Homo sapiens: one gene and its partners. The protein of the gene in region 3 interacts with the protein of the main gene of each other region in a biochemical or structural test. Each region holds a gene or a part of one and is shown on either strand. Other genes may lie near its edges. The genes, in order: REST, LIG1 and CDYL.

Region 1 (9,219 bases), on a different chromosome or scaffold from region 3:
GAACCTGCATATTTCATTTGCTCACAAACTTGCACACACTATTATTCTGCAAAATAGACAACTGCAGCAAAGAAAAAGAAAACTGCCCTTTTGCAAACAAGTCTAAAAGCATCCCTCCAAAGACGCCAAACAAAATAAACATGCATATATATATGTATAAAGTGTTACTGTTCAACACAAATGCTATTTCTAGGAAAAATTTAACTGCATAGGCAAAAAAACATAAACAGAAACCAAAAGAAAAAAAAAATGTGCAACATCTTAAGCCATTAAAGCACCAAAATAAAAAACACACCAAAATCACTGTTTTTATGACGATTAACATACACAAATAAAAAATATTGATCAAAACTCAGGAAGTAAATACTTGGACTGATAGACTGTCTATTGCTGGGGGAATTTTTCTTCAATTTAAATGTCTTCTCATCTCTAAAAAAAAAAATCTTAAAGTGCTAACTTTATATAAAGCAGGCAAATTCTTCAAGTAATTTGCTATTAAGTAAGCCAATTTTTTATAGATCTCAATAAAAAACGAAGAATAAACTAAAGTGAAACAGGAAGATAAGACATGGAGAAAAAAATGACAAGTTGTAGCTGGACAAAGCAATAAAATGCTGTTATACCATCTTAGCCTTCTAATTTCAATTAAACACATAAGCTAACAGATACCTGCTGGTTTAGTACACTCTCTTAGATTTACTAAAATTTACACAACAATCAACAGGTATACATAAAAAGTCCTAAGGAAAAGAATGCCACTTAAAAATCAACATCAGATACTAATTAAAGCAATCTTAAAAGGTTGTCTGCTATCATAAATGAATATAAAATGTAATATACCTTACAAACTAAGAACTGAAACCTTGTTCAAAGTTTCATTACTCCTGCCCTTGAGCTGCTTCTTCAAGATAGTACACATTAACCAAATGGCGATTGAGGTGTTTGCTGTAATCTTTTCCCTTTCTGAAAGAACGATCACAGAAGATACAAACAAAATCTCCCTTAGCCGCTTTGACTGCCAAGGCTTCCTTTGCATTTTTTCTGCTAGATTCTTGTGGAACTGGCCGAGCCCCATGCAATCCAGAATCATCACTACCCTCTGACATGTTGTCACTTAGGTCACTTCCTTCATGGCTGTGGATGCCTTCATCTTCATCAATTTCCTGAGACTCATTTGCTGCCATTGTAGCAGGAGGTGATGCCAGTGCAGTTTTGGACACTGCTTCACGTTCTTCTACTGCTGAAGGGGGAAGCATTGGTGAAACTGGTTCTTCAACTGTTGAATTTATACCAGTGAGATTCTCTCTTGTGTTCTGATCAGTGTCCATTTTCATTTCACAAACTATACTGTCAGTCTGATGTTTACCATTTAAAGTTTCACCCTCTGGCGTATTCAAGTTTTGTCCAGAGGATGAAATATGGGTAGATTCGTTGATATTAGCAGCAAGACCAGGTAGGCTCTCATCTGCCTCTTCTGCTCCTACTTTCTGAAGAGGGGCTTCTTTATTTCCTTCACCTGTGTTGAGTAATTTTTGGTCTCCTGATGCCTCTTCTCTTAAATTTTCCTTTGGCAGTGGTGGTGATGGTGGTGAGAGATCCTCTGTGCTTACACTTTCCTTTAGAAGCCAGCTATCTTTAACAGGCACTAAGCCAACTTCAATAAGGACTTGCTCCTTCCGTGCCCTTTCACTCTGCATGTTAGACTTTTCCTTTTTATCTTTTCGGAGAGGAGGCTTTTTGGAAATTGGCTCCATGTGAAGGGGAGGCTCTCTGGGAGGAGGTGGCTCCCTCTGAGCAGGCTCCTTCTGAACCACCCCCATGGGAGGAGACAACTCCATCTGAACAGGCTCCTTCTGGACCACCTCTATGGGAGGAGACAGCTCTATCTTAACAGGTTCCTTCTGGACCACCTCCATGGGAGGAGACAGCTCTATCTGAACAGGCTCCTTCTGGACCACCTCCATGGGAGGAGACAGCTCCATCTGAACAGGCTCCTTCTGGACCACCTGCATGGGAGCAGATTCTACCTGGGCAACCTCCATCTGAGCAGGTTCCATGGGAGCAGGCCCCATTTGGGCAACCTCCGTCTGAGCAGTCTCCATGGGAGGAGGCAGCTCCATGTGAGCAAGTACAATTTGGGCACCCACCATCTGAGCAGGCTCCACGGGAGGCAGCAGCTCCTTCTGAGCAGGCCCCTCCTGAACCACCTCCATCTGAACAGGCTCGTCAGGAGCAGGCCGTATCTGGGCACCCTCCATCTGAGCATGCTCCATGGGAGGTGGCGGCTCCACCTGAACGGGCCCCTTCTGAACCGCCTCTGTGGGAGCAGGCCCCATCTGAGGAGGGTCCATCTGAGCAGATCCCTTCTCAACAGGTTCCTTCTGAGGAGGCTTACTGCTTTTCTTACTTGATTTATTTTTCAGAGTTTTCTTCTTTGTACTTTTTTTCATGCAAGTATTTTGCTTTTTATTCTCCTCCACTTTGCTGTCACCCTTTGGCACTTCCTGACTATTATTTTTGGATTTGCTTTCTACCTTCTTTTTCTTTTTTGTTGAAGATTCCTCATCATTCACAGGACCATGTAAAGAATGGCTGTCAACTTCCAGCTTCCTTTTGCTTTTCTTAGTTTTACTGAATTTTTCTGAATTGCTTCCTGTATGCACATCCATCTCTTTCACCTCTGTTACTGATTTTCGAGTTCTGGTAGTCACCTGGATCACTGACACATTATTAGAAGGCTTTTTCTCTTTTGAGACATCTCTTTTCTCTGCTTTGACGGACTTTTCATTTTTCTTTCCAGCCACATCCCCTTTTATTTTTGTTTGTTCTATTTCTGTTTTTTCATTGGTAATATTATCAGGCAAGTCAGCCTCTCGTTTTTTGGTTTTCTTTAGTTTCACTTTTGAGACATCCATTGTTTTATTAGGACAAGTAGGATGCTTAGATTTGAAGTGATACTGTAGATTACACTTCTTGGAAGCTGCATAGTCACATACAGGGCAATTGAACTGCCGTGGGTTCACATGTAGCTCTACATGTTTTTTGAAGTTGCTTCTATCTGCTGTTTTGTAATCACAGTGTGGGCAATTAAGAGGTTTAGGCCCATTGTGAACCTGTCTTGCATGGCGGGTTACTTCATGTTGATTAGAGGCCACATAACTGCACTGATCACATTTAAATGGCTTCTCACCTGAAGGCAAATCAAAAGTATGAGAGAAGACATAGATTAAGACAAATTCAAGATTAAAATATAAAGAACTGTATATGTAAAGTAACAACAAAGACTATTTAAAATGCTGTATCATGCACCTTACATTTACCATATTTATTTGTATAACATTTCTCTATCCCTTGACATTGATTCTCAAAAGAGAGGAATAAATCTCAGTTAACCACAAGCTTCAAAAAAGTTCAAGTTAGAGTCCTCAAGCACTACTAAAGAACAGAGATTCTTTAAGACATACACATATTGGCAAAGTTCAATTGGGCTCTGGATGTTAATTTGGAGGAATATTATCAACTTAAAAATTTTTTTGTGTGTTTAGTTAAATGCCTAATGGAGTAGAAAATAAAATTCTGGCCAGGTGCAGTGGCTCACAACTATAACCTCAACTCTCTGGGAGGCCATGGCAGAAGGACTGCTTGAGCCCAGGAATTAGAGAACAACCTGAGCAAAATAAATCAAAACAAAATTAACTTTGGGAGGCCAAGGTGGGCGGATACCTTGAGGCCAGGAGTTTGAAACCAGCCTGGCCAACACGGTGAAACCCCATCTCTACTAAAAATACAAAAAAAATTAGCTGGGCGTGGTGTTGCACACCAGTAATCCCACCTATTCAGGAGGCTGAGACACGAGAATTGCTTTAACCCAGGAGGCAGAGGTTGCAGTGAGCTGAGATCGCACTACTTCACTCCAGCCTAGGTGACAGCGAGACTGTGTCTCAAAGAAAAAAAAAAAAAAAAAATTAGCCAGGCATAGTGGAGTGCACCTGTAGTCCTAGCTACTCGGGAGGCAAAGGCGGGAGGACCGCTTAAGCCCAGGAATTTGAAGTAGCAGTGAGTTGTGAATGTGCTACTGAACTCCAACCTGGGCAACAGAGCAAGGCCCTGTCTCAAAAATAAATCAATACATAAAATTCCCAGCCAGGTGCGGTAGCTCACACCTGTAAATCCCAGCACTTTGGGAGGCCAAGGCAGGTGGATCACCTGAGGTCAGGAGTTCAAGGCAAGCCTGGCCAACATAGTAAAACCCCATCTCTACTAAAAATATAAAAAAATTTAGCTGGGCGTGGTGTTGCATGCCAGTAATCCCACCTACTAGGGAGGCTGAGACACGAGAATTGCTTTAACTCAGGAGGCGGAGGTTGCAGTCAGCTGAGATCCCACCACTTCACTTCAGCCTGGGCGACAGTAAGACTTTGTCTCACAAAAAGAAAAAAAAAAAAAAATTAGCCAGGCATGGTGGAGTGCACCTGCAGTCCCAGCTACTTGGGAGGCAAAGGCGGGAGGACCACTTAAGCCCAGGAATCTGAAGTAGCATGGAGTTGTGAATGTGTTACTGTACTCCAACCTGGGCAACAGGGCAAGGCCCTGTCTCAAAAATACATCAATAAATAAAATTCCCAGCCAGGTGTGGTGGCTCACACCTGTAATCCCAGCACTTTGGGAGGCGAAGGCAGTGGATCACCTGAGGTCAGGAGTTCAAGACCAGCCTGGCCAACATGGTGAAACCCTGTTTCTACTAAAAATACAAAAAATTAGCCGGGTGTAGTGGCAGATGCCTGTAATCCCAGCTACTCAGGAGGCTGAAGAAGGAGAATTGCTTGGACCCAGAAGGCAAGATTACAGTGAGCCAAGATCGCACCACTGCACTACAGCCTGGGCGACAAGAGCGAAACTTCGTCTCAAAAATAAATAAAAATAAAATAAAATTCCCATACTCCCTCCACCCTAAATTTCTTATGGTAAATCTTGAGAAAAATATCTTTCACTCTGGGCGATACTCCCAGATCCTAGGTGCAAAAGTTTTGAAATTCTGCTTTAGTCTGAGCAAAGGCTTTTTCTTGAAATTTAATCCTTCTGTCCGTCATGGCAAGAGCTGAGTAAATTTTCACTTAGCAAACTTCCTGCGCTAGCATTGCTATTTTAAAGCAAAAATATAGGCCAAGGTAATTATTCAGAAAACTTTCTTGATTTTCCCCCCACCTTTCTATAAAATACATAAAGGAACTAGGTAATGAGAAGTGGCACACAAATAGATATGGTATGTAAAATAAGCAAAGTCACAATCACTGATACATAAAAAACCAGAACCCCCACCCCCAAATTAAAGGCATAAGAGTAATACATTCTACCTGAATACATACCCATCTAGATCACACTCTAGTAAATATTACCAAATGGTATCCATACCCCACTGGTCCAATGGAATGCATAGTAGAAAAACGGAAATTGACATTTATGAAAATTCATCTCAAACATTCTCAAATTCATATCAAATTGTACTAAAAATTTTCATAAAGCAAAACTCAGACATTAGGTAAAACCATGTAGATGTTAAGTTTTACATGATTAGAAAATGCCTGGTGATAAAATAATCACCTTATCCAGGTAGTCAAATTAGATATTCAGCTGACTGGACAATTCTTCTCCATGTTGGTCTACTAACAGATTTACAAATATGCAAGTTTCTACAACATGCTACATTACTCTATACCTGGTTCTCTCCAGTGAATGATTTAAATGGAGACAAACATTTTAACATACGTGGACATAGAATGTAGAAAGATAGGTAGCATAAGGCCTAAGAACTTCTAGATAGAGCTAGACCATCTGGGAGATAAAACATGAGCTCTGCAAGTTGCTCACTCTGAGACTTTGAGCAAAGTCCTGAAACCTCTCTAGAGTTCAATTTCTTTCTTTTTTTTTTTTCTTGAGATGGAGTTTCACTCTTGTTGCCCAGTCTGGAGTGCAATGGCGCGATCTCGGCTCACTGCAACCCCCGCCTCCCAGGTTCAAGCGATTCTCCTGCCTCACCTTCCCTAGTAGCTGGGATTACAGGCATGTGCCACTAAGCCTGGCTAATTTTGTATTTTTAGTAGAGACGGCATTTCTCCATGTTGATCAGGCTGGTCTCGAACTCCTGATCTCAGGTGATCCACCCTCCTCGGCCTCCCAAAGTGCTGGGATTACAGGCGTGAGCCACCGCGCCCGGCCTCAATTTCATCTATAAAATACTCTCTAAGTGTTGTGAGCTATAAATAATCTAATCTATGTAAAGTCCTTAACATGGAGCAGACAGCAAGAACTCAAAATGTGTTACCTATAATTGTTCACTTTTGGAACCAATTGGTAACTTTGAGTATGGATAAATAAAAGGGAAGACTCAGCAGGGCGCGGTGGGTCACGCCTGTAGTCCCAAAACTTTGGGAGGCATTTTTGTAAAAATATAAAATTTGGGGAGGCATTTTGTAAAAATACAAAAAAATTAGCTAGGCGTGGTGATGCGTGCCTACAGTCCCAGCTACTTGGGAGGCTGAGGCAGGAGAATCCCTTGAACCCGGGAGGCAGAGGGTGCAGTGAGCCGAGATCGCACTACTGCACTCCAGCCTGGGCAACAGAGCAAGACTCCATCTCAAAAAAATAAATAAATAAAAAAGGCTGGGCGCAGTGGCTCACGCCTGTAATCCCAGCACTTTGGGAAGCCGAGGCAGGCGAATCAAGAGGTCAGGAGTTGGAGACCAGGAGCCGGAGACCAGTCTGGCCAATATGGTGAAACCCCATCTCTACTAAAGATACAAAAACTTAGCCAGGCGTGGTGGTGCATGCCTGTAATCCCAGCTACTCGGGAGGCTGAGGCAGGAGAATCACTTGAACCCAGGAGGCGGAGGTTACAGTGAGCTGAAATCGTGCCATTGCACTCCAGCCTGGACGACAGGGTGAGACTCCATCTCAATCAATCGATCAATCAAGGGGAAGACTCTTACGTATCCTGTCTTTCCTACATCATGAGTAAATAGATAAGTGGAATTTATCTCTTCTCTTCATATTTACACACTAATAAAATAACTATAATTAAAATAGCACCATTTTATAACTCTGATGAATAAGGAGATCTATAGAGCAAGCATGCATCCATCAAGGTGCGAGGGTCCACCTAAGGAATGGTGAACGGAAAGGGAGGATGTAGAAATTTTCTGTTTAAAATTTGATGGCATGATTTATTTGCTCCGTTCTTTTTCTCCCGTAATTTTTACTTTATTGCCATGAAGTCTTGCTTATATTAAAATATATTCATCAAGATTTTCTAATTAGTACCTACCTGAATATTAACTTTTGCCCTGTACAAACAATTTTAAATTCTTTTTCCCAATTCTAGTAACAGGTTCTCTTCTTTATAAATCTACCAATTGTCTGTTTTATGCCTCCGAAATGAATTTATAGGTGTAAGCCAAGACAAAAGGGGAAAGAGTTCTGCAAGCTTTACACATACGTATCAAAAATATTCTTAGAAGAATGGCCAGGCATAGTGGTTCACACCCGTAATCCTAGCACTTTTGGGAGGATGAGGTGAGGAAGATTGCTTGAGCTAAGGAGGTTGAGACCAGTCTGGGCAACCTAGTGAGACCCTGTGTACAAAAAAATTTTTAAATTAGCCACATGTTATAGCACAAGCCTACAGTGCCACCTACTCCAGAGGCTGAGGTGGGAGGATCGTTTGAGCCTAGGAGGTTAAAGCCGCAGTGAAAAATACACAAATACAAGCCTCTCAATTTAAGTTTTTAAATTAATTCCCTTAAAAATAAAAACAAAACAAAACAAAAACCAAGAGAGAATGGCAAAGAAATTTTTTTTTTTTTTTTTTTTGAGACTGAGTCTCGCTCAGCTGCCCAGGCTGGAGTGCAATGGCGCAATCTCGGCTCACTGCAACCACCGTCTCCCGGGTTCAAGTGATTCTCCTGTCTCAGCCTCCGGAGTAGCTGGGATTACAGGCACCCGCCATCATGCCAGGCTAATTTTTGTATTTTAGCAGAGATGGGGTACCACCATGTTGGCCAGCCTGGTCTTGAACTTCTGACCTCCGATGATCCGCTCACCATGGTTTCCCAAAGCGCTAGGATTACAGGTGTGAACAACCGTGCATAGCCGGCAAAGAAAATTTTTAAGTAAAAAGTAATGGCGGCATACAATACATTACCAGCAATAAAATGAAGTCCAATAACGCAACATGGATAAATCTCAAGAACATTTTATAAAAGAATGTTCTAAAACTAGGTGCAGTGGCTCATGCCTGTACTCCTAGCACTTTGGTAGGGTGAGGCAAGTGGATCGCTTGAGCCCAGGAGTTCAAAACCAGCCTGGGCCAACATAGTAAGACTCCATCTCTACAAAAAAGAAAGAAAAAAAAAAAACAGGCATGGTAGCGCACACCTGTGGTCCCAGCTACTTGGGAGGTTAAGGTGGCAGGACTGCCTGAGCCCAAGAGGTTTAGACAGCTGTAACTGCACCCACTGCACTCCACCCTGAGTGACAGAGTGAGATCCCACCTCAAACAAACAAATTCTATAATGTTCTTTGGTAGGAGACAGAATATCATCCAGGGGAAAGACTGGGTGGAAAGGGCAAGGTGTTTCTGAGCAGAAATATTCCATCTCTTGTTCTTGAGTGATAATCAAATAGGTGAAAGCATAGTCACTGAGCTGTACACTCAAGACCTGTGCATTTTTAAATTTATAAATTATATCTCAATAAAATAGTTTTTAAAATTTATTCTACAAAGACTCTCAAGCCATCACAATATCTTTCAAACAATCCCAGCTATTTAAAAGTCCCTTGGCACCAACGTTATCAACAGAAAAAAATAAAACATGTCTGTCTGGGCACAGTGACTCAAACCTGTAATCCCAACACTTTGGGAGGCTGAGACAAGAGAACTGCTTGAGGCCAGGAGTTTGAGGCCAGCCTGGGCAACACAGCAAGACCCAGTCTCCATAGAAAGAAATAGGATATTGGCCGGGTGTGGTGGCTCACGCCTGTAATCCCAGCACTTTGGGAGGCTGAGGCGGGCAGATCATGAGGTCAGGAGATCAAGACTATCCTGGCTAACATGGTGAAACCCCGTCTCTACTAAAAATACAAAAAATTAGCCTGGCATGGTGGCACGAGCCTGTAGTCCCAGATACTAGGGAGGCTGAGGCAGGAGAATCGCTTGAACCTAGG
Region 2 (5,619 bases), on a different chromosome or scaffold from region 3:
GTGGAGGTTGCAGTGAGCCAAGATTGCACCACTGCACTCCAGCCTGGATAACAGAGCTACACCCTGTCTCAAAAAAAAAAAAAAAAAAAAAAAAAAAGACTGGAAGTGAGGACAGCCAGTTACTGGGCAGTGAGGATGTGGGTGAGCATAAGGGAGTGACTTCCTGGGGCCAGGGAGACAGTGGAAGCAGCAAGAGTTTCTCCATAAAGCAGAAGACAGGGAGTGGTTCACGGCAGGCCTGCTGGGAGAACATTCCCACCCGGGAGTCTCTGGATGGATGCTCCGCACCCCCAGCTCCCTACTTCCCTGGTTTTCTGTGGATACTGCGTAGACCAGAGTGGGGTGGGGGCCATGAGTGTACACAGCTTTAGATGGCAGGAGCAAGTGCTGGGCCTGTGGCTGGCTGAGCCTCTGACCTCCCGCTTCCTCCCTGCAGCTTGGAACTGGCTTCAGTGATGAGGAGCTGGAGGAGCATCACCAGAGCCTCAAGGTGAGCCATGGCGGCTGCGCCTCAGCCTCCACCCCTCTCCCCCCTGCCCCTGACAGCACAGTCCTTCCATGCAGGGCTCTTGGCTTCCACCATCTTGGGGCTCCAGGTGTGGGCAGGAGGGCAGCAGGCAGTGGAGCTGGCTTTGGAGTCCAGCATCTCCAGGTTCATGTCTCAGCACTGCCGGCTACTAGCTGGTGACCCTGCTCAAGCAGCCTCACCTCCCCAAGCCCTGTGCCTCATTCACACCAGGGGTTAGCCAAAGGACACAGCAGGTGCCATAGCTGCTCCTTGTGAAGTGCCTGTGAGCCCTGATCAATGTGAATGAATGTTGTCATGGTCACAGGCATTTCAGGCATGAGTGTCTGTCCTACATATTGGATCTGTATTAGTTTATTTTCATACTCATACTGCTATGAAGAAATAACCCAAGACTTGCCGGGCGTGGTGGCGCATGCCTGTGGTCCCAGCTACTTGGGAGGCTGAGGCAGAAGAATTGCTTGAACCCAGGATGCAGAGGTTGCAGTGAGCTGAAATCATGCCATTGCACTCCAGCCTGGGAAACAGAGTGAGACTCTGTCTCAAAAAAAAAAAAAAAAAAAAAAGGATCATTTATAAAGAGAGGTTTCCTGGACTCACAGTTCCACACGGCTGGGGAGGCCTCACAGTCATGGCAGAAGGCGAAAGAGGAGCAAAGGCACATCTTACATGGCGCCAGGCAAGAGAGCGTGTGCAGGGGAACTGCCCTTTATAAAGCCGTCAGATCTCGTGAGACTTCCTCACTATCACGAGAACAGCACGGGAAAAACCTGCCCCCATCGTTCAGTTACCTCCCACCAGGTCCCTCCACGACACATGGGGATTTTGGGAGCTATGATTCAAGACAAGATGTGGGTGGGGACACACGGACCCTGACACCATCTCTGTCCCACTCTTTGGTTCTCTCTCTCCATTGCCCTCTCTCTCTACATCTCTGTCCCTGTCCCACTGTGTCTCTGTCTCCTTCCTCCAGGTCTCTGGCCCTTTCTCTGCCTCTTTTTGTCTTTAATGTCCTGCCTCAGCCCCCAGGGCCTTTCATTTCTTTCCATCTCCCATTCCTCCCAACTCCCACCTTTCTCAACTTTTTACTTCAAGGGGGTCTTGTTTCTTTTCCCTTCTTTCACTTTCTGTTTCTCTTTCTATTTCTGTTTACTTCAAGGGGGTGTCTTGTTTCTTTTCCCTTATTTCACTTCCTATTTCTGTTTACTTCAAGGGGGTGCCTGTTTTTTTCCCTTCCTCCCTCTCCCCAGCCCTCCAACACTTGGCCTTGACTTTGAGATTCCAGACCCTCTGTTCCTCTCTTCCTCTGCTCACTGCAGGCGCTGGTGCTGCCCAGCCCACGCCCTTACGTGCGGATAGATGGCGCTGTGATTCCCGACCACTGGCTGGACCCCAGCGCTGTGTGGGAGGTGAAGTGCGCTGACCTCTCCCTCTCTCCCATCTACCCTGCTGCGCGGGGCCTGGTGAGTGGCAGAGGACCTGGCCGTGGCCCTGTGTGGGATTCTGGGCGGGCACACAGAGAGCAGAGTAGGGAGGGGACCTTGGCTCACATCTGCTCTTCCAGGTAAGGATCAGGAAGATGAGCTTGCATTTTATTTGAGTGTCAGATAAAAAGATCAAAACATTTTTTCTTTAAAAATGGGCCGGGCATGGGGGCTCGTGCCTGTAATCCCAGCACTTTGGGAGACCGAGGCAGGCAGATCACTTGAGGTCAGGAGTTCAAGGCCAGCCTGGCCAACATGGTGAAACCCCATCTCTACCAAAAATACAAAAATTAGCCATGTGTGATGGCGGGTGCCTGTAGTCCCAGCTACCCAGGAGGCTGAGGCAGGAGAATCGCTTGAACCTGGGAGGCGGAGGTTGCAGTGAGCCGAGATCACACCACTGTACTCCATCCTGGGTGACAAAGCAAGACTCTGTCTCAAAAAAAGAAAAGAAAATTCTTTTCTTAAATAAAAGAATTCCCAGGGCAAGCACAGTGGCTCATGCCTGTAATCCCAGCACTTTGGGAGGCCGAGGCAGGCAGATCACTTGAGGTCAGGAGTTCAAGACCAGCCTGACCAACACGGTGAAACCCCACCTCTACCAAAAAATAGAAAAATTAGCTGGGTATGGTGACCCGTGCCTGTAGAGACGGGGTTTCACCATGTTGACTAGGCTGGTCACAAACACCTGGCCTCAATCCGCCCACCTCGGCCTCCCAAAGTGCTGGGATTACAGGTGTGGGCCACCATGCCCAGCCAAGAACTTACATTTTTGATCTAATTTTTAAAAATGTTTTACCATGCTGCACGTTAGACAGCCAGGGACCCTTAGTAACAAGGCACAGGAGCCGGTGTGTATCCAGCCCTTGCTGTGCAGTGGGCACTGTGTGGTCATCAGCGTGTCACTCATAGACACTCATTTAATCCTCTCAAAATCCGTAAGACGTAGTGACACAAACATCTCCATTTTACGGTGAGGATGTAGAGCCCTAGAGAGCCTGAGTAACTGCCCCTGCATCACGCGGCTCCTGAGAGTTGGGAGCTGGGATTGGAATCCCACAGTCAGATTCTAGAACCCATACCCTGGCGCCGTAGTTCAGCCTCTCAGCCCGAATTACCGTCATTATCGTAACGGCTGTAGCAGGTGGCATTTTTTTTTTTTTTTTTTTGAGTTGGAGTCTCGCTCTGTCACCCAGGCTGGAGTACAGTGGCGCAATCTCAGCTCACTGCAAGCTCCCCACCTCCCGGATTCACGCCATTCTCCTGCCTCAGCTTCCTGAGTAGCTGGGACTACAGGCGCCCGCCACCACACCTGGCTAATTTCTTTTTGTATTTTTAGTAGAGGCGGGGTTTCACCGTGTTAGCCAGGATAGTCTCCATCTCCTGACCTCGTGATCCACCCGCCTCGGCCTCCCAAAGTGCTGGGATTACAGGGGTGAGCCACCGCACCCGGCCAACAGGCAGCATTTCTTGAGCACTTACTGTGCCCGGGTACTGTTCCAAGCACTTTGTCAACTTGTTTAATCCTTATGACAACCCATCGTTCGGCCCCGTCATGTGGATCAGGAAACAGTCCAGAGTGGAGGAGGGAGGAGACTGAGCAGGGGGTCGCTGGGGCTGGACCGCAGGAGTCTCCATCCCGCTTCCGCAGGTGGATAGTGACAAGGGCATCTCCCTTCGCTTCCCTCGGTTTATTCGAGTCCGTGAAGACAAGCAGCCGGAGCAGGCCACCACCAGTGCTCAGGTGAGGTCCTGGGAAGCAGGGGTGGGCCGCCCAGCTGCTTGGCCCTACCAGCTTTTTAGCGTGGTGGCCTCTCTGGAACCTTGTGGAGGTGGGAGCAGCCAGGGAGCTTCTGACCACCCCGTCCCACCCTCTCTCCGCAGGTGGCCTGTTTGTACCGGAAGCAAAGTCAGATTCAGAACCAACAAGGCGAGGACTCAGGCTCTGACCCTGAAGATACCTACTAAGCCCTCGCCCTCCTAGGGCCTGGGTACAGGGCATGAGTTGGACGGACCCCAGGGTTATTATTGCCTTTGCTTTTTAGCAAATCTGCTGTGGCAGGCTGTGGATTTTGAGAGTCAGGGGAGGGGTGTGTGTGTGAGGGGGTGGCTTACTCCGGAGTCTGGGATTCATCCCGTCATTTCTTTCAATAAATAATTATTGGATAGCTACTTTGTGACAGGGTCTGTGCTGGGCTCTGGGGGCAAAGCTGTCATGGGTGTCACCTGCATAGCATGTAGCCATGTAGCCATGGCCTAGGAACTGCCAGAGCCAGTGCCAGCCATGGAACTGCCTGCAGTGGTGGGCGTCTTCTCTATCTGCTCTGTGCAGTGTGACCGCCACTGGCCACCTGCAATGCCCGAGCCCTTGACAGGTGGCCAGCATGACAGAGGATGCGAATTTGTTTTGTTTTGTTTTGTTTTGATTTTGTTTTGAGACAGAGTCTCGCTCTGTTGCCCAGGCTGGAGTGCGATGATGAGATCTCAGCTCACTGCAACCTCCACCTTCCGGGTTCAAGTGATTCTCTTGCCTCAGCCTCCCATGTAGCTGGGATTACAGGAATGTGACACCACGCCTGGCTAATTTTTGTATTTTTAGTAGAGATGGGGTTTCGCCATGTTGGCCAGGCTGATCTTGAACTCTTGGCCTCAAGCGATCCACCCTCCTCAGCCCCCCTAAGTGCTGGGATTACAGGCGTGAGCCACCACACCCAGCCATACCAAATATTTTATTTAATTGTATTGGACAGCAGTAGTCTAAAATCTTTACATACATATATTTTTTAACTTGTTTAACCTTCCAGCCATCCCACAGGGAGGCACCATCGTGAGCCCTGTTAAGGAAGACAAATGCAGTGTCTTAAAATAACACAGATGTATTCCCTAAACAGTTTCGGAGGTCAGAAGTTCAAAATCAGTTTTACTGGGCTAACATCAAAGTGGTGGCAGGGCCGGTTCCTTCTGGGAGCTCCAGGAGAGAAACTGTGTCCTTTTTCCAGCTTCCAGAGGCCACCTGGTTCCTAGGCTCATGGCTTCTTCCTCCGTCCTCAAAGCCAGCAGCATCGCACCTGCAAATCTCTCTCCTGAGGTCATCAGGTCACGTCCTCTCCTCCATCAGATCTCTGTTTCTCTCTTCCAAGTACTCAAGTGGTTACATTTAGGGCCCCCTGGATGATCCAGGATAATCTCATTTCAGGATCCTAACTCAATCCCAAAGTCCCTTTAGTCACATAAGATCACACATTCACAGAGGCCAGGCACAGTGGCTCACGCCTTGGGGAGGACTTGGGGAGGCTGAGGTGGGAGGATCACTTGAAGCCAGGAGTTCAAGACTAGCTTGTCCAACACAGCCAGACTTCATCTCCTCTAATTTTATTAATAAAATTAATAAAAATGTAAAAGGGCCAGGCGCGGTGGCTCACGCATGTAATCCCAGCACTTTGGGAGGCTGAGGCAGGTGGATCACCTGAGGTCAGGAGTTCGAGACCAGCCTGGCCAACATGGCAAAACCCCGTCTCTACTAAAAATACAAAAATTAGCTGGGCATGGTGGCGCGTGCCTGTAATCCCAGCTACTAGTGGGGTGAGGCAGGAGGATCACTTGAATCTG
Region 3 (9,327 bases):
GTCCCACGTGAACAAAGTCTCATGGTGGTTACTTGACTGCTAAATAAATTAAGGTCCTCTTGACCTCACAGCTTTCTCTGGTGATATAATCAGTTTATAGAATACTTTCAAATCCTAAATCTTGAGGAAGGGAAAACAGGTTTGGTTTCATGGTTTGAGAGTTGGATGGGTTTTTTTTCCTCTTTAAAAATGGAAAACGTTTTGTAGAATTGCTTTTACACGCTAATGCCATTTAAGCCTCAATTATTTGGTTATCATCCTCCTATTTTACTGATGAGAAAGTTTAGGATAGTTAAGACAAGTACAAGATGAGTTACTTAACAAGCTTCTAAGAACAAGGGAAGGCCGGGTGCAGTGACTCATGCCTGTAATCCCAGCACTTTGGGAGGCCAAGGTGGGCGGATCACTTGAGACCAGGAGTTTGAGACCAGCCTGGCCCACAAGGTGAAACCCTGTCTCTACTAAAAATACAAAACATTAGCCGGGGCGGGGGCGGGGGCGGGGGGGGGGGGGCGTAGGCGGGGGTGGTGCACGTCTGTAATCCCAGCCACTCAGGAGGCTGAGGCATGAGAATAGCTTTGAACCCGGGAGGCAGAGGTTGTAGTGAGCTGACAACATGAAGCCACTGCACATCAGCCTGGGAGATAGAGCAAGACTCTTGAAAAAAAAAAAGAGAAAGAAAGAAAGGAAAGGAAGGAGGAAAGGAGGGAGGATTACCACCCAGATCTTCCAGCTCTAAGTCTAGAGCTGGGATGAAAGTTAGAAATACCGTCTAACTTCCATACATCCCCAACCCTTGAGTAAACCCAGATTCCTAAACAGACTATGACAGTTGATCACCTACAGCAGGGCTTAACAAACAACAACCTACAGGGCAAAGCCAGCCCACTGCCTATTTTTGTGGAACCTACAAGTTAGGAATCATTTTTACATTTGTAAGTGATTGGAAAAAAAACACAAATGTGTATTTCATGACACATAAAATGATATGAAATATACTAAGTGAATTTTACTATCCATAAGCAGTTTGAGACACAGCGCACATTCATATAGGAGTCTACGACTGCTTTTGCACTACATGAGGTGAGCTGAGTGGTTGCAACAAAGACCATAATATAACCCACAAGTCTAAAATATGTATTATCTGGCCCTTTACATTAGAAGCGTGATGTAAAGGACGCTTGTCTTTTTGTGAAAACTATGAAGTTCTAACCTACGCCGCATCAAAAATCCGTTTTTCCTCAATCCTAGCAGCTGGAAAAGTAGGGAGTAAATCTATTCCATCCTTCAACTAATAGTAACTCTTCAAATTTTGCAAGGTTCATGCTCTACCCATCTTTTCCAGGATCTGTTCCTTTATTTTTTGTTCACAAAGCCTAGTTTCAATAGCCATTTAAACATTTACTAAAGACCTATTACTACATACCAGGTTCCATGCTAAGTATTGGAGACATTTCTTTTAGGCGAGAAAACCAAGGCTCAGCAGTTGGGTAACTCACCCAAGTTCCCAGTTACTGCAGACCTGTCCTCCTACCAGACCATGTGAGTTCAAAGAAGCAAGACTTCACATTTCCTCCTGTCAATATATCCCTCTAGATTTGTGGAGCCTGAGGCCAAACAGAAAACTTCTATTTCAGTTTAGGCAGAACTGGACAAAACAAGGCAACTAACAACCCTTGACTTGGCCACAAAACATCATCTTAGTGTCTTTCCCAGCCTTGTCAGACTATCGCGTTCATTTACAATTGCGTATCACTTCTGCCCTACAGATAATACTGCCTTTATGAAAACAATACAACTCTATACCTTTAGAAACAAAACCAGGTTTCAGGGAGGCATTTTAAGCCAGTTACCATACAATCATCATCACTTACTGGGTGCTTGCCATGGGAATTTTAGGGTGGGCTTTACATATGTTCTCATGTAAACTTCATAGCTCTATAAGGGAAACACTGATCCCAATTTCACAGATGAGGAAACTGAGCTTTCAAGGCTAATTTACCCAAGGTGATAGAGTTGGAAGTCACTAACTGGGTTGTCTGACTCCAAATCTAGGCTCTCAACTGCCATGCAAAACTTTCAATGTCAACTTTCAATGGTAACATAGTCACAGTGTTGCCTACAAGTAAAAGAAAAGTTACAAATTTTGCCTTGAAAGATACTGACCACTACATATTTACTACACATACTTAAATTTATCACCTGAACTATACTTCTATAATACCTTTTTTTCCAAAACTAAAATAAAACTCAGAATCAAAAGTTCAATTGTGCAGGTGTATCATTTATTTGCAATATACTTACTTCCTCCCCAACAGACACTCCTTGAAAGCATGAACCATTCTCACACCTCAGTATTTCCCCATGAAACCTCCATATGGCAAGCATTCAATAAACGTTAAATGAACACAAACTTAGTACAAAATGTTACTCATTAATAACTTCTGTTAGGAACAGAAACCTGAAGATATAGAATAAGCACAGAAGGAACTAAACTTAGTTCATAATATACTAATGGGAAATGTGCTGTCTTCAGAATCATTCTTACACACATAGGATACAACTTACGTATAAGGTGCTACTCTCATCCACTGATGGAACTGATTATGTAATCATACTCATAAAAGCAAATGCCAAGAGTGAACACTCATGACTAAACAACCAAAGAATGATCTAATGTAGAAACTAAAATCCCCCATACCCTCATGCTATGTACTTCCCCCTGTACAGACTTCACCTGGAAGACCTCAACCTCAAACATCCTAGCCTCCATTTCTGTGTCTTCCAGACACACAACACTTTCCTTCCTAGAAGGAAAGCTCCTGAGAACAGGGAGATTTTTCTTCTTTTACATCCCCAAATGACCTAAAATAGTATCCTGAATACAGCGGGGCACAGCTAATGTGTAAAATGGTTGAAAAGAATGGAACATTTTCAGTACCAGCTAAGGTATACTGACCACATACAATGTAAGGAGAAGCAACAACCTTACCCTTAATTCTACAGATGGCAGCTTCCTCCTGAGAACTTCTGCAAACACTTGCTCTTAAAAAGCAACAAAAAAGTTGCTAGAAGACTAACATCGCAGACAACAAAGCTCTATTCTATGCCAACAGCAATAATACGCCCATAAGAGAAGACAACTGAAAGGATCCCTGGGGCCACAGGGCTCTACTTGTTACAGATGCTTCCTTAAGTCCCTCAACACCCAGGTCCCTAAACGCATCATAAAGGTGAGTCTAGAGAGTCTTCGCAAGTTTTAAGTCTCTTAGGAACTTATTTATAAATACATGTGAAACAAGAGAATCATTTATCCAGAAGAACAGAAAGCCTTCCAAACTTCTGTACTCCCAGGAAGTCTACTTTGAAATACGTCAAAAGAAGTTACATGGAGACATACAAAACATGTCTAAAGATCCAAATTGGTAACTCTCAAACTTGAAGCTGGTTTAAACCCATCGACCAGAACTTACAGTTCTGGCTATGCCCTTCTCATTTGCAACGCTGCGGCGCAAATGAATGACGGTGTATCAGCGTTAAATTTAAATTTCCTGGCTCTGGCCACAATGCTAACCTAATTAAAGCATGTGGTCAACGTTTAGCATTTTCGGTGCGAGATTTTGCATCGCTTTGGCGAACAGCAAAGTCGAAAGCGTTTGCACCGGTCTTCTCCCCGCCACCCCCCGACCAGGGGCAAAACCCTCTCCCAAATGCTTTATCAAATGATCCAGAAACCCCCCCACACCCCACCCCCCGTACCGCCCACGGTCCCCGCCGAGCGGCAACGGAGGCACCACTTCCACGACCCACGCCAAGAGCACTTTGAGCTCAGTCCGAGCAAGTCACTTGTGTCAGCACCACTTCCCCACGGCTGGGACCCCCCCCCCCACCCCACGCCCGGCAACTTCAGGACCCCCCGGCCGGGGCCCCTCGGAACGGAGGCTCGGGCTCCCCTCACACACATTTCCCGTCCAGCAAACTGCGGCCGCGGCGGGGGAGGGGACGCGGCGGGCGCGGGCGGCGAGCGGGGCCGTCGGGCGGCGCGGCCGGGCCGGGAGGGGCGGCGGGCGGGGGGCGGCCCGAGGCCGGGGGGAGGGGAGGTACCTCGTACAGCTCCTCGGAAGCCATGGTGGGCGGCGGAGTTGCGGGCGGGAGGGGCAGGGTCGGGGCGGGCGCCGGCGCCGGGCGGCCGACACTTTGTTTCAGTTGGGTCCTGCGTGGCCTGCGCTTCCTGCTCCCGCGGCCGGCCGGGCGCTGGGCACGGACGAGCCTCTTGCACTCCGCGGCCAGTGCGGGCCGGCGGCGCGGCGGGGTTGTGCGCAGGAGCAGCTACGCAACGCGCCCTGGGCGCCCCGCGCTCACTCCCCGGCGGGCCGGCTCGCGCTCGGGCTCATCGCGCCCCGCCGCGGGGCCGGGCGGGCTGGGGCGGGCGCGGCGGCGTGCGGGCGGCGCGGCCGGATCGCGGCTCCCCTCTCCGGTGTAGTGCAGAAAGCTTCCTACTTGCGACCAAAAAACCTGCCCCGGCTACTGAGCATGCCCAGTGCGGCCGCCCGGCCCTGCGGAGCCGCGCTCCCGCGCTCCGGGTTTTCGGGCCGCCCGCGCGGGAGGGGCGGGGCGGCGGCGGGGCGGGGCAGCCGAGGGGAGCAGTGGGCTCCGCTCGGGGCCGAGGCGGGCGGCCGGCGGGGCCGGGAGCGAGCCGGCAGGAAGGGGAGGAGCGGGGCAGTCGGGGGCGGGGCCGCGAGCGCGGGGGGCGGGGTGGTGGGCGGGGCTCCGACTTCCCCAGTCCCGCTTGCGGGGTCGGCCTGGCCCGCGGCACCGCCCCCCAGCCCGCCTCGACGTGGGCGCTTGCGGCCCGGCCCAGGGCAGGCGGGACCTGGACCTCGAGGTTCGAGGCGCAGCGCGGTTGTGCACACCAGGACGGGCAGCGACGGACCCGAGATGGGGCAGGGAACCATGCGAGCGAGCCGGCCCGCGTCTGGAGCCCACCGCCCCGACGGCAGCGGCCGCGCCGTCTACCGCGCGCCTCCCTCCAGGAGGAGCCCAAGAGGCGGCCTCCGTGCGCCCGCCCGTCCGGGGCCGGGCCAGCCCGCGAAGGGCCGGCGGCGTGGCCAGGTGGAGCACCCACCCCACCCCATGCCCGCCCCACCGGCCGCCGCCAAGACCCGGAGCCCGGGCCGCGCGCCCCGCGGGGTGGCCCGGCGAGCTCCGGCTGGCACGCTGGCTCCGCGGCAGGCCGGGGGTGGGATCCGGGGGGCGGGAGCCGGGCGCGGCGGAGGGCGGCGCGAGGGCGCGGCTGCCTCCGCTCTGCCCGCAGCTCCCCCCACGCCAGGCCTCTGGGTTCCTCTCGGAGCGTCCGCCTCCTCCGAAGCGCAGCTGGGAAGGGACCGAGTCTGGATTCCAGGGAGGTCCGGGTTCTAATCGAACGAGGCTGTCAATGGTGGTTCCTTTCGCGGAACGGTGTGGACTACACGACAGGCCCTCGCTCAGAACAGCGAGGGCTGGCCCGCGCTCCACTTCCCAGGGAAGATCTACTGCCAGGGCACACCTGCCGGGCCCTGGACGTGCCCCATCGGTGGCGAAAGAAGGGGCTTCCTGACCCAACTCCCCCAGACAGCCGCCAACTCCGATCACTCTGGCCGAGTATGCGGAACTTCCCCACGGGGCACTGCAGAGGCATTAGTTCACCCTCTCCCCCAGGCCCTGCATCGGGAAGCCCTCGCCAGTTCCTCCATGTCTCCCCGGGCATCCTTCGGGCCGCCTCACTCCTCCGTGCTCCATCTCGCTCCAGTTCCTAACCTACCTTGGAGCCACAAGGCTCCTCCCACCAGTTTTCTTCCTAAAGCCCTATTCGTTTGTGCCCCCCAACAGCGTTTCAACAACCACGGGGCGTCTCACAGACCCCGCGGTTTCCTGTCCTCCCCACGCCCAGGAACAAGCACCACGCCAACCCTTAAGTCACTGCGAGTCGAATCGCCGTTCCCCTTAAGCGGTGCTTCTACCTGCGGTCCCCACCGTTTGAAACAAACTCCCAGCTCAGGGATCACCTTAAAAGGATAGCCTTCCTGACTTCCAGGGCCAAATCGGTAACTCCCTCTTCAAGCGCTGCCTAAGCACTCACGCGTGCTCACTGCAGCACTCGTCTCTGTATTTTAAGGTTTGTCTACTCTTCACCCCACCCCAACTCCAAACGATGACCTTCAGTCAGACTTCATCTTCAAATTTGACGCTGGCCCCTAGCACCATTCTCTATACAGGAAATAAGGTGTTGTTCAATGAATGGAATTTCAGTGTCCACGAGAAAGCCCAATACCTACACATCCAATTCCCATTATCAAATGTTTGCACAAGAATCGCAAATTAAAGCCACCACTTCATCAACTGGTCAAGGCGCCTCAAGCTCTGCCTCTTTCCCTGATGGCCCAGCCAATTCCCTCTCCCTCCTCCAAACAGCGCCTCTTTCCTCTCACTTAGCATTTCCATTATATGCTGCATTTCATTGTTGCCTTCTCTCTAGGTTTACCAATTTATCAACAAAAGTTGTAAGTTCCTTGAAGGCAAGGACTAGGATTTTATACATTTGGGAAATCTCAAAGCATTGAGTGCACACTTCGGCAAGCGCTCAAATACTGGCAGGTGATAGTTTAAAATCCCTCAAGAAAAATCAACTGTAAAAAAGAGATCCTCAATAGGAAATAGATACATATAACATATAAGCCTATTATGCAATGATGGACCAATACAAATACAAGCACTTCTCGCCATGACCATTACTCCAATTATTGCCCCCTTCAGAACATCCACAAGCTTAGGCATTCACAAGGGGCTCCACCATGTGCGTAATGGTACTGTGGTCTCCAAGGAGTCTCCAAAACTGCCATTGTTGCCCAGGAGAGGGAAAGAAAGGAACATAGACATCCACAACAAACATATCCAGATATTGAGCTAGTAAGGCGATTTTCCCCATTGTGGAAACAAAAAGGGGAAGAATTATAGCCTCAAAAAGGCAACTCAAAAATGTCAATTTACATAGACCTTTGTCAATTTACGTAGCTTTTCAATCTTGACAATCTGGAATGTTTATGCTGCTATCCTTAGTCTACAACATTAAGAGTAACCACCAGTAGCCTCTAAAACAAAGCAGGAGTGAGCCATACTCCTAAGTTCCAACCACCTCTCCACTCTGACAGTTGGCTTCCACTGGCGAAGGAGATGGGTATCCACCTAGCGACTGAGAAATTGAGGAAGTTCTCAATTGTCCACTTTGTTCCTTTCATCTGCCCTCCATTTAAAACTCACTGATTTATGGAATGCTATTTTGCTTATATATACATATATATTTTAACCTCATTCGTTCAATTTGTCTTACTTTTAAGCAAACTTTGCTTTCCTCCGTCACTTTTTTATATAAACATTTTACCAGCACTCATAGCAGAAGTAAATATGCCCAAGATTATTTAATGACTTGGAATTTCCACCACCTTTTATGAAACAGTGAAGTTCTGTAGTTTCCATGACCACGTGTGTGGGTGCTATTATTTTCTCAGTGGCTTAAGAATAAAAGTGAAATCACATCCCCTAAGCACACCGGGAAGATTGCAGCAAAAATACATACAGCACAATACCATGCACTAGTAAGACATATGACTCTTAAAAGATTAGAGAAGTGGTCAACAAGAGAGACGATATACACACATGATTAAAAGACACGTCTACCAGCAATAAACGATTCTTACCTGACCTGCTCCCGTTGTTGTAGGCCAACATAATTCAATTCTCTCCTCCTCAAATCCAAACAATTGATCATCGATGGCAAGTTCTACCGACGATAAGACTCTTCAGATCAAGAATCACAGCCTCTTCCCATCTCGGGAGAATGATAACTAAAACCTGAAATCTGAGATCCTCCTCTTTTCCCAATCACCAGCCAAACCAGGCATGTCTTCCTTTCTCCCAAGAATCTGCATTTCATCTACATTTGAATCCAAAGGCATCCAAGGGGAGATGGGGGATGGGACAGAAAAAAACAAAAGAAGCCAAAATCTAGCTACTACTATTCTCAGAGCCAAAGGCGTTTTATGGTTGGGTAGCTGTGAAAAGCTACTGATAATGATTCCCTTCAACAGTTTTGTACCCCCAAAGCATATTCTATCCTGGTTACCTCCTCCATAACCCAAAATTTAATTGTGATTTTTATGAAGATGCGACCTAAGTTTGTTGGTTTTAAACCCACAGTGGCTGAAGGGAAATTAAATGCCGTTCTTGTCATAGAGTATCTACTCCAGAAAACTTGGTGGAATTTCCATCTCAATCACCCACTCAAAAGAAAGAACATTTTAAACCTGAGACCCAAAAGAAAGAAGCATACAGAACCATTTATAAGATTAATTCAGATGTTAGGGGCCTTGTCTGAACTGGGAGCCAACCAGTTCTTCCTTCCCTAAAAGCTTAGAGTGGATACCAGTACCTTTTTCTGGTCAACCAATAACAGCTGATTCCTTTTTTCAGTCACTGTTGCCTTCCCTGCCCAAACAGTCAGTTTCCCCATTTCGAGGGGCAGCCTCTCCCTGCCGCCCTCCATGTTGGTCCCAGGTAGGTACCATTTCTCTCTTTCATATAGAAGCCAGTAGCCAGCTGCCACACTGCTGCTCCTTGGCCAGATATCACTAGTTGTTTCATCTCTTTGCCCTCGTGATGCCAATTCTGAGACCTCTTAACATTTGATTTCACCAATTTCATCTTAGGCTGTGATACCATCACTGGCCGGAGCTCATCAATCTACAATTAAGGATCATTTGCTTTTTCAACTAGATTTAGTGTTTAAGTACGGTTCCTTTTTCTATTTAGCTAATGGTGTTCTACCAAGAGAATCCTTGTAATATGTACTTGTTGAACTTTTTTTGATTAAAGTAATGAGCAAGAGCAAGGAAGTTTTTCATTGATAATTTTATACATTACCCCATTTTTGGAAAGCAAAAAGACCAAAAATCATAAAGAGGAAATAGGCACAGGTATTCCCATAATTTTGGTTGACTTTATGCCAAGGCAGTAACTAACTCATTTTGGATCCCTGGAAAAAAACAGCAAGTACTGTTTAACTTTCCCTTGAATTATTGTGATGATTAATTGCATTTGTCTCTCAAGTCAGACCATCCCAGTATCGTCTTTACCTTTCCATTTCTAGACAGAGAGAGAAAGAGAGAGAGAGAACAACTAGGCAAGAGATGAGTGTGGACATTTTGACTGGTAAGGAAAATAGAAACACAAGACCCACCAGAAGTGGGGGAACCCAGAATTATCCCAGGAGCAGGTGGATGTTGAATCTAAAGC

Evidence for each region.
Region 1: the proteins of CDYL (region 3) and REST form a complex in vitro, tested with the Homo sapiens proteins (one study listed by BioGRID).
Region 2: the proteins of CDYL (region 3) and LIG1 interact in a test that uses a peptide from one of them, tested with the Homo sapiens proteins (one study listed by BioGRID).

The regions. Positions count from the first base shown.
Region 1 is NC_000004.12:56,923,812-56,933,030, reverse strand, and holds part of REST (RE1-silencing transcription factor), read right to left. Parts: intron 3,191-9,219; coding exon 879-3,190; 3' UTR 1-878. UniProt on the Homo sapiens protein: Transcriptional repressor which binds neuron-restrictive silencer element (NRSE) and represses neuronal gene transcription in non-neuronal cells.
Region 2 is NC_000019.10:48,114,008-48,119,626, reverse strand, and holds the end of LIG1 (DNA ligase 1), read left to right. Parts: intron 1-436; coding exon 437-490; intron 491-1,845; coding exon 1,846-1,989; intron 1,990-3,661; coding exon 3,662-3,754; intron 3,755-3,894; coding exon 3,895-3,978; 3' UTR 3,979-4,182; downstream 4,183-5,619.
Region 3 is NC_000006.12:4,771,585-4,780,911, reverse strand, and holds the start of CDYL (chromodomain Y-like protein), read right to left. Parts: upstream 4,509-9,327; 5' UTR 4,129-4,508; coding exon 4,105-4,128; intron 1-4,104.